Linked DNA regions of Homo sapiens. The protein of the gene in region 1 interacts with the protein of each later gene in a pairwise test. Each region holds a gene or a part of one and is shown in the gene's direction. Other genes may lie near its edges.

Region 1 (4,953 bases):
TATGAATTTTGATTAGTTAGGTTTTGCCACTGTAAAGTTAAATATCTTTTCTCTCTCTCTCTTTTTTTTTGAGACGGAGTCTCACTGTATCGTCCAGGCTGGAGTGCAGTGGCTCCATCTCTGCCCACTGCAACCTCCGCCTCCTGGTTTCAGGCTGTCCTCCTGACTCAGCCTCCCGAGTAGCTGGGACTATAGGCGTGTGCTACCGTACTCGGCTGATTTTAGTATTTTTAGTAGTGATGGGGTTTCACCATATTCGTCAGGCTGGTCTCTAACTCCTGACCTCAAGTGATCTGCCTGCCTCAGCCTCCGAAAGTGGGATTACAGGTGTGAGCCACCATGCCCAGCCTTATTTTTTCTCTTTTTGATTTGTAAATGAAGGATGGGAGATTCTCTATCTTTTTATCTTTCTTGAACACTTATGGCAAAATATTTTCCAGGTTCATCTTGCACTGTTCCTGGCCCAGTCCCTATTCTTGAATCAGCTGTTCCTTCAAGGAGGCCTGGTTCTTTTTAGTTATACTTATGAAAGGACGACAAGTTTATGTTGAATGATTGCATTTGTGTTTTCTTCCGGATTGGTCTAGACTGAACAAGGTTAGGAATCCTGTCTGCTTAAGCATGTATATAGAAATGGCATAGTAAGAAATTGTTGATTAAATCATTGTTTTCTCTAGCATTAATCTTAAGTTTTCTTTTTAGGATAGCAAACCTGAAACGCCTAAAATCTTTTAACCTTTGAATATGAGATAACTTTTTGTCTGTGCAAAATTACATGAAGCCAATTATAGTCATAATTTTTAGAGGAAGGCTTAGATTAAAATGTAAAGATGTGGTAGACTTCTAAATATGCAAAGAATCACATGGAGTATGATTGTGAATTACAGGTTTAATTACAGTTTTTTTCTTTTAAAGGAAGTATCTAACTTCTTAGTATAATACACTATTATATAAACTGTCTCATTTAATACAGAGAGTATTGAGGTATATGTTGATATCTTTCTTTTTTGTTTTTTGAGAGAAGAGTCTCCCTGTGTTACCCAGGCTGGAGTGCAGTGGTAGGATCATGACTTACTGCAGCCTTGACTGCCTGGGCTGAAATGATAATCCCACCTGAGCCTCCTAAGTAGCTGGGACCACAAGTGCAGGCCACCATTCCTGGCTGATTTTTGTTTCTGCTTTTGTGGAGACTCACTCTACAAAAAACTCACTGTTGCCCAGGCTAGTCTCAAACTCCTGGGCTTAAGCAGTTCTCCTACCTCAGCTCTCCAAAGTGTTGGGATTTCAGGAGTGAGCCACTGTGCCTAGCTGGTACCTTTCTTTTTACAGAGGAGTAACAGCCTTAGAAACTGAATAACTCATAATATATAATTGGATCTGCACTCAGGTGTGTCTTATACCTACTGCGAGCAATCTTTTTCAGGCTGCACTACCCTTGAGTGTTTATATCAATATTTTTGGAGACAGACTTGGGGAATTTTAAATATCTGCTGAAGTTAGGAATATGATTGCCTTTTTTTTTGAGACAAGGTCTTACTCTGTCGCCCAGGCTGGAGTGCAGAGGTGCAGTCTGGGCTTACTGCACCCTCCACCTCCCGGGTTCAAGCAATCCTCCCGCCTCAGCCTCCCTAGCAGCTGGGACTACAGGTGTGGGCCATTATGCCTGTCTCATTTTTGTATTTTTAGTAGAGATGGGGTTTCACCATATTGGCCAGGCTGGTCTTGAACTCCTGACCTTAGGTGATCTGCCTGCCTCGGCCTCCCAAAGTGCTGGGATTGCAGGCATGAGCCACTGTGCCCATCCGGGATATGATTGCCTTATAATGTTTTGAGGTGTGGGCTGTGGCATTTACATGCTTAGGGCTTTGTCAGTTTTTGGATATTTATCTTGTGGTGAGGTAAAGTGTTCTGAGCAAACAAAATGTATGTGAGTGTAGTCTTTTTACCGGCTATTGTAGAGTGGGCATTTTCAGTCTTGGCACTGTTGACATTTTGGATTAACTAATTCTTTGTTGTGGGAGCCTGTCCTGTGCATTGTAGGAATTTAGCAGCATCCCTAACCTTATAAGTTGTCAGTAGCATTCCATGTAGTGAATACTGAAATGTCAGCAGGGCATGCTGGCTCATACCCATAATTCAGAACTTTGGGATGCTGAGGCGGGAGGACCACTTGAGCCCAGGAATTAAAGACCAATCCGGGCAATATAACAAGATCCCGTCTCTACTCAAAAAAAAAAAAAAAAAAAAGAAAAAAGAGAAATTAGCCTTGCATGGTGGCGCGCCCCTGTAGTTCTAGCTACTTAGGAGGCTGAGGCAGGAGGATTGCTTGAGCCTGGAATGTCAAGGCTGCAGTGAGCTGTGGTGGCTCACTGCATTCCCACCTGGCTGACAGCAAGACCCTGTCTCAGAACCCCACAACAACAAAAACTGAAATGTCTCCAGATATTGCCAGATGTCTCATGGAGGCAGACTTGTCCCAGTCACCAATGGTGTAGAGTGATTTGACTTTCTAAAAGTCTGTTGAATAAATTAAAACTTTCTGTTGGCATTGCAGGGGTCTGTTGCAAATAAATTCTATGTTCACAATGATATCTTCAGATACCAAGATGAGGTCTTTGGTGGGTTTGTCACTGAGCCTCAGGAGGGTAAGTAGTGAAATACTTTAAATTACTTGTCTAAATTTTTTTTAATGGCATCCGATTGCCCTTAAGAGACTATGGGTTTCTTTACTGTTTTCATTACACTCTGTTCTTCATTAATAACTAATTATGGTATATGAAGAGTCTGAGGTTTTACCCTACTTGAAGCTGCTAACAGGTTAGCTTATATCATGGATGTTAGTAGAAGACATAAGACTCTTAGGTCAGAAGGAGACAGGCTAACTCACAGCGACAGTAGTAGTATTTTTGCCACATTTACCAATAGGATGTCATGGAGAAGGCTAGGTGATACTTCTACTGCAGTGGGTTGTGTTAAAGGCATGGGACACTGAGTTTAGGGAACCCAGATCTATTACAACAGGCAGTAAACATGACTACTCTTTGTGCTGGAGGGAGATACTCTTTCAAAGCTGTTTGCTATATAAATGTTCTTGAAAGACAGTCTAGAAGAAAGGGTAGGCATGGAAGATGTGTAGACACAGAGACTTATGGAAAATTTTCTCCAAAATAGTAGAATTGAGTGTTGTTTATATGGCTGAGAGTATATTTATTTTGTAATACAGTTTTACAGATAAGCAATCATTTGCCTAGTAAAGTGGTAGAGCCTGCATTAGATAACTGCCTAATATAATTTGGCTAATGTCACGTAGCCAGTAAGGTGACAGAGCCTGCATTAGGCTCCATGCTCTTAAAAACCAAGACACTACAGTAGCCTTAAAGTCTATCCTTAAGGCTGGGCGCGGTGGCTCACGCCTGTAATTCCAGCACTTTGGGAGGCCCAGGCGGGCAGATCACGAGGTCAGGAGATCGAGGCCATCCTGGCTAACATGGTGAAACCCCATCTCTACTAAAAATACAAAAAATTAGCCAGGCGTGGTGGCAGGCGCCTTAGTCCTAGCTATTCGGGAGACTGAGGCAGGAGAATGGCGTGAACCCAGGAGGTGGGGCTTTCAATGAGCCGAGATCGCGCCACTGCACTCTCTAGCCTGGGCGAGAGAGCGAGACTCCGTCTCAAAAAACAAAAAACAAAAAAAAGTCTGTTCTTCAAAGCCTTAGTTCTGTCCTTAAAGTCAGTGCCATGATTTTACCAAATTGTCCTACTTTGTTTATTTATATATGTTTTTCTTCACTGTTGTTTTGTGAACATTGCGAAAGTTAATGTATATGTGAATTCAGTAAGTACAAATTACTTTAAATATCTTTTTCTCACTTAGAGTCTGAAGAAGAAGTAGAGGAACCTGAAGAAAGACAGCAAACACCTGAGGTGGTACCTGATGATTCTGGAACTTTCTATGATCAGGCAGTTGTCAGGTAAGAAGATTTTGTTCACATGTCCGGGGCTGCATAAGAACTTGCATTGTCTAGTCTTTCCCTTTGTTGGAGGGCATTTACATATTCTGAGAATTACCTCAAAATAATAATTTCTCAGAAGAATGGTTTTGTTTCTGGTAATTTTGACTAAACAAAAATATGTAACTTGTTTGTTAATAGTAAATTGTACTATGAAGGCAATCTACTATTGCTTAGTTTAAATAGTATCAGTTTCTTTTTGGTTTAGTTTTTTCTTGGTGTTAAGTGAAAACTTGCATATTGTTTATCAAGAGTTGAATGTATTGAGGTATTAAATGCTTTGAGGGAATATGAAGTGGACAGAGACCTATTTAATTAGAGATCGGGCATAAATTGATATAAATACCAATATGTGAGTTAAGTAGCAATAAAGAATTTCATTACGTTAGTAAGTGCATCATTATACCTTTGGGTTTTTTCCCCCTTGTGATTAGAACAGAAATGTGTTTGATAGCAATAGAAATCCATATTTACTTGTTACCATGTGATACTGAATGTTAATATTCAGTGCCTGAAGGGTGTTTTCAAGTGTTTCTTAAGGTGTGATGAACTAATCAGGTTACTCACTTGGGTTGCTGGTTGAAAATGAAGATTCATGGTCCCACTGCAAACCTACCGAATTAGACTTTCAGGAGGCAAAACATCTGCAGTTTTGTTTGTTTTTGTTCTATTGAGACAGAGTCTTGCTCTGTTACCCAGGCTGGAGTGCAGTGGCGCGATCTTGGCTGACTGCAACCTCCGCTTCCTGGATTCAAGCAATCCCCCTGCCTCAGCCTCCTGAGTAGCTGGGACTACAGGCGCACGCCACCATGCCCGGCTAAGTTTTGTGTTTTTGTAGAGATGGGGTTTCGCCATATTGGCCAGGCTGGTCTGGAACTCCTAATCTCAGGTGATCTGCCCACCTTGGCCTCGCAAAGTGCTGGGATTACAGGTGTGTGCCCAG
Region 2 (4,953 bases), on another chromosome or scaffold:
ATACCAGCCTGGGCAACACAGATGGGAAATCCCATCTCTACTAAAAATTAAAAAAAAAAAAAGCCAGGAGTGGTGGTTCGTACCTATAGTCTCAGCCACTCGGGAGGCTGAGGCAGGAAGATCACTTGAGCCTTGGAGGTTGAGGCTACAGTGAACTGAGATCACGCCACTGCACCCCAGCCTGGGCAACAGAGGGAGACCCTGTCTCAAAAAAAATAGAAAAATCTTACTGATTAACAATTTTGTAGTCTAAATCAGCATCATCAGGTGGTATATACTTCTAGGATTTAACATTAATTTCATAGTGGTCTAAGAGGGCTTGAACAGACTTAAGTAATTTCTTGTTTTCTTTTATAGGGGACAGAGCACAGGAAAGGGACCCCCACAGTCACCTGTGAGTGTCTTCTCCCACCCTGTTTAAGATACATAGACCTAAAAGATGCATAATGTGGGAATATAGGGCACATTAGGTCTAGATAGAGTCTAATGTACTCAGGAGGGCTGTGGGCCCGGCACACACAAGGCAGAATGAGTAGAGTGCGGCGGGCATTTAGAAAAGAAAATGAGGTGTTGACTGATTACTCCTTTAATTCTCCCTCTTATGTTAACTGACAGGTGTTTGAAGGCGTCTACAACAATTCCAGAATGCTGCATTTCCTTACAGCTGTTGTGGTAAGTTGGTACTTAACCCCCGGGTTGTTTAAGGAACGTAATGCATCTACTTTCTGGAGACACTCTTCTTATTTTTCCCACTCTGCCAGGGCTCCACTTGTGATGTAAAGGTGAAAAATGGTACCACTTATGAGGGTATCTTCAAGACGCTAAGCTCAAAGGTCAGTGTACTCAAATTTAATTATTTTTGGAGTTGCAGAGTAGGAGGAGAATGAAATAGGCTCATTGAAGGTGTCAATTGGGTGATGTCAGAGTATGCCTTTAGTTGTTTCTGTAGGCCTGTGCTGAATAGTGCTGCAGGGAAAAAAGACAAATTTGAGGGCTGGGTACTTTAATGTTAAAATATTTAAGTTTAAATTTTTGTGAGACTTTTGCTAAGTCCTGTGGCTGATGTTGAGAAAACAATGCACTTGGTTCCAAGCATGTTGAGGATGTAGTGTTGTGAAAAGTTTGGGAAGGGTAAGAGAAATCCAGTTCTATTTAAGAGAAATCCAGTTCTATTTTTGCCTTCACTTTTCTTGAAACTGACCCATGGGTGTGGGGAATGGGGTGTTTGTAGTTTGAACTAGCCGTGGATGCTGTGCACCGGAAAGCATCTGAGCCAGCAGGTGGCCCTCGTCGGGAGGACATTGTGGACACCATGGTGTTTAAGCCAAGTGATGTCATGCTTGTTCACTTCCGAAATGTTGACTTCAACTATGCTACTAAAGGTATTGTCCTAGGCTGTTACCTCAGACCTGCTCTGTGTGCATAGAGGACAGAGGGTAGTTTGTGTGCAGGTGGAACATGGTGATGTGTTTGGTTTGTTTTTTTGTTTTTGTTTGTTTGTTTTGCTTTAATGCCTTTTTTTTCCTGAGCGAAGTGGGTGGATTTTTCTTCTTAAAAATATGTCTTGATGTCTAATATATAATGCGATGAATTCCTGTCTGTGTTGTGGTTCTTCATATTTTCTTTGCTTGGTTTTTAACTTCTTTTTTCTTTGGAATCATAGTACTGATAGACTTTTTATACTCTTCTTCTCTTGCCTCCCCACCCCCTGGCCATCCTAACACACGGGCACACGTACTCTGGACTTCTTAAACTTTGTTCCTGAACTACTTACGGAGAGTGGGGTTGGGGGATATTGGAAAGAAGTCTGTGAAATATAGCCTGACTCCTGATCTTCACCTCTGCCCCCACAGACAAGTTCACCGATTCAGCCATTGCCATGAACTCGAAAGTGAATGGGGAACACAAAGAGAAGGTGCTTCAGCGCTGGGAGGGGGGTGACAGCAACAGCGACGACTATGACCTCGAGTCTGACATGGTATAGCCTCCTTCCCTGAGAACTTGGGAGCTGGACAGACAGAATGGGTTGTTGACAGTGAGGTTCATTTGAGTGGGGAGGGAAATATTTACTGTTGCCCATTGATGGTAGTCAGATAACAAATAGAAAGGTATAGAAAATAGCAAAGTAAAAATATCTATTCTTAGCTGGGTGCAGTGGCTCATGTTTGTAATCCCAGCACTTTGGGAGGCCAAGGCCGGTGGGTCACTTGAGGCAAGGATTTCGAGACCAGTCTGGGCAACATGGTGAAACCCTGTCTCAACAAGATATATAAAAGCTATCAAGGTTTGGTGGCATGTACCTGTAGTCCCAGCTACTTGGGAGGCTGAAGTGGAAGGATCACTTGAGCCCAGGGAGGTCGAGGCTACAGTGAGCTGTGATCATACCACTGCACTCCAGCCTGGGTGGACCGTGTCACACGCAACAAAACCAAAACATCAACTTACTCTCTTACTATCTATAATTAACCACTCCTAGCATTTGCATCACGTTATTTTTCAACATAACAAAAAGTATAGATTAATGTGTAGGCCCATTTCTCTTCCCAAAATCAGCTACTCTGAGGCATTTAAAATCTCATGAGGCTGAGCGCAGTGGCTCATGCCTGTAGTCCCAGCTACTTGGGAGGCCAAGGCAGGAGCTCCGATCACTTGAGCCCAGGAGTTTGAGGCTGCTGTAAGCTGAGATTGTGCCACTGGACTCCAGTCTGAGCGACAGTGAGGATGTCTCAAAAAAATAAATAAAAACCGCTCATGAATAGAGCTGAGCGTGGTGGTCCCACACCTGTAGTCCCAGCTACTCAGGAGGCTGAGGTAGGAGAATCATTTGAAGCTTTGGTGCACTATGACTCAACTTGTGAATGGCCACTGTGCTCCAGCCTGGGCATCATAGCGAGACTATCTGTTGAGAAACAAATGTCTTGTGAATGAATATATTATTGTTTTGTTATGTTTAGTTTGTACAAGAATTTGCTTTTCTTGCCTTTTCGAACTTCTCATGGTTGTACGTAGATCTAGTTCTTTGCTTCTATTGTTGTGTGCTGTTTTCAAATATACACACACACGTGTACACAGCAAATTGTATTTGTCCTTTTCCTTAATCATCTGCATTTGGTTGCCATTATTTTGCTACTAAAAATAGTACCTTGCTGGACTTTTAGAACATATATTCCCCACGCACATGTGCCAGAATTTTTCTGGGATGTCTTGGAAATAGAATTGTTAGGTCTTATGACTTTTCAGGTTTACTAGTTATTGATAATTTCTGCTGCAGTTGTTAGTAATCATTAACAGTTGCAGGCCGGGCGCGGTGGCTCACACCAGTAATCCCAGCACTTTGGGAGGCCAAGGCGGGCAGATCACCTGAGGTTGGGAGTTTGGAACTAGCCTGACCAACGTGGAGAAGCCCCATCTCTACTAAAAATACAAAATTAGCTGGGCGTGGTGGCACATGCCCGTAATCCCAGCTACTCGTGAGGTTGAGGCAGGAGAATCGCTTGAACCCAAGGAGACGGAGGTTGCGGTGAGCCAAGATCGCACCATTGCACTCCAGCCTGGGCAACAAGAGTGAAACTCTTTGTCTCCAAAAAAAAAAAAAAAATTGCAGTTATTAATTACAATTATTAGTTGATTACTTTTGCCAGCCACGTTCCAATTTTTTTTCCACTCTTGTTTTGTCGTTTATTTTTGAGACGAGCTTGCTCTGTTGCCCGGGTTTTTGTTGTAGTTGTTTGTTTTTGTTTTTGTTTTTGTTTTTTTTGGAGACAGGGTCTCACTCTGTCACTCAGGCTGGAGGCTGGAGTGCAGTGGCTCGATCTCAGCTCACTGCAACCTCTGCCTCCCAGGTTCAAGCGATTCTTCTGCCTCAGCCAGGACTGCAGGCATGCGCCACCACGGATGGCTAATTTTTTATTTTTAGTAGAGACGGGGTTTCACCATGTTGGTCAGGTTGATCTCCTGACCTCAGGTGATCCACCCACCTCCCAAAGTGCTGGGATTACAGGCATGAGCCACCACGCCCAGCTAGTCGCCCAGGCCAGAGCGCAGTGGTGCCATAATAATTCACTGCAGCCTCAAACTCCTGGGCTCAAGTGATCCTCTCTCCTCAATCTCCTGAGTAGCGAGTAGCTAGGACCCCAGGCATGCACCACCACACCCGGCTGTTTCATTATTTTTTTCTAGAGATGAGCTCTTGCTGTGTTGCCCAGTCTGGCCTTAAACTCCTGGCCTCAGGAGAGCCTCCTGCCTCAGCTTCCCAAAGTACTGGGATTACAGGTTTCAGCCACTGTGCCCAGCCAATTTGTTCACATCTTGGAGTTTTTAACCTGATGGAAGGGAAGTGACTTGTCGTTGCTTTTCCTGCTGGGTTTTAAAACCACCTTCCTCCCTCCCCAGTCCAATGGATGGGACCCCAATGAAATGTTCAAGTTCAATGAGGAGAACTACGGTGTGAAGACTACCTATGATAGCAGTCTTTCTTCTTATACGTGAGTATCTTGGTGCTCTCCAGGTGATGTGTTGGTGATATGGGGTCACTAAGTGAAGACAGGTTTCCAGGTAGAACATAGTTTTTGCTCATTTTTCTCTGGGTGTCCAGGGTCGCCATCCCTACTCCTACTCTGCCTTGTGGAATTCTTCCCTCAAAGGTTTTAAGCGTCTTAAGTGCTTCTCACATTCCCAGATAAGCCTTGGTGCTCTACCTGGGATGCAGTCGGTGCCCGTTACCCAGATGTTGAAGGGATTAAATACTTCCATGCCTGAACTGGTGATTGGACTTGTTGAAATGTTTTTCCTTTTTTCCTCTTTTGTCCCCTGGCACTGGGATGGTGGTGGTCTGTGGGTGCTGTCTCAGGGTGCCCTTAGAAAAGGACAACTCAGAAGAGTTTCGTCAGCGAGAGCTGCGTGCGGCCCAGTTGGCTCGAGAGATTGAATCAAGCCCCCAGTACCGCCTACGGA

What was found. Proteins that work in one complex are often made in the same cells at the same time.
Region 2: the proteins of G3BP1 (region 1) and ATXN2L interact in binary tests that used the Homo sapiens proteins (3 or more experiments, as listed by UniProt).

The regions. Positions count from the first base shown.
Region 1 is NC_000005.10:151,791,605-151,796,557, forward strand, and holds part of G3BP1 (ras GTPase-activating protein-binding protein 1), read left to right. Parts: intron 1-2,554; coding exon 2,555-2,645; intron 2,646-3,874; coding exon 3,875-3,971; intron 3,972-4,953. UniProt on the Homo sapiens protein: Protein involved in various processes, such as stress granule formation and innate immunity. Plays an essential role in stress granule formation.
Region 2 is NC_000016.10:28,825,009-28,829,961, forward strand, and holds part of ATXN2L (ataxin-2-like protein), read left to right. Parts: intron 1-357; coding exon 358-394; intron 395-615; coding exon 616-672; intron 673-761; coding exon 762-833; intron 834-1,231; coding exon 1,232-1,382; intron 1,383-1,853; coding exon 1,854-1,978; intron 1,979-4,392; coding exon 4,393-4,484; intron 4,485-4,849; coding exon 4,850-4,953. UniProt on the Homo sapiens protein: Involved in the regulation of stress granule and P-body formation.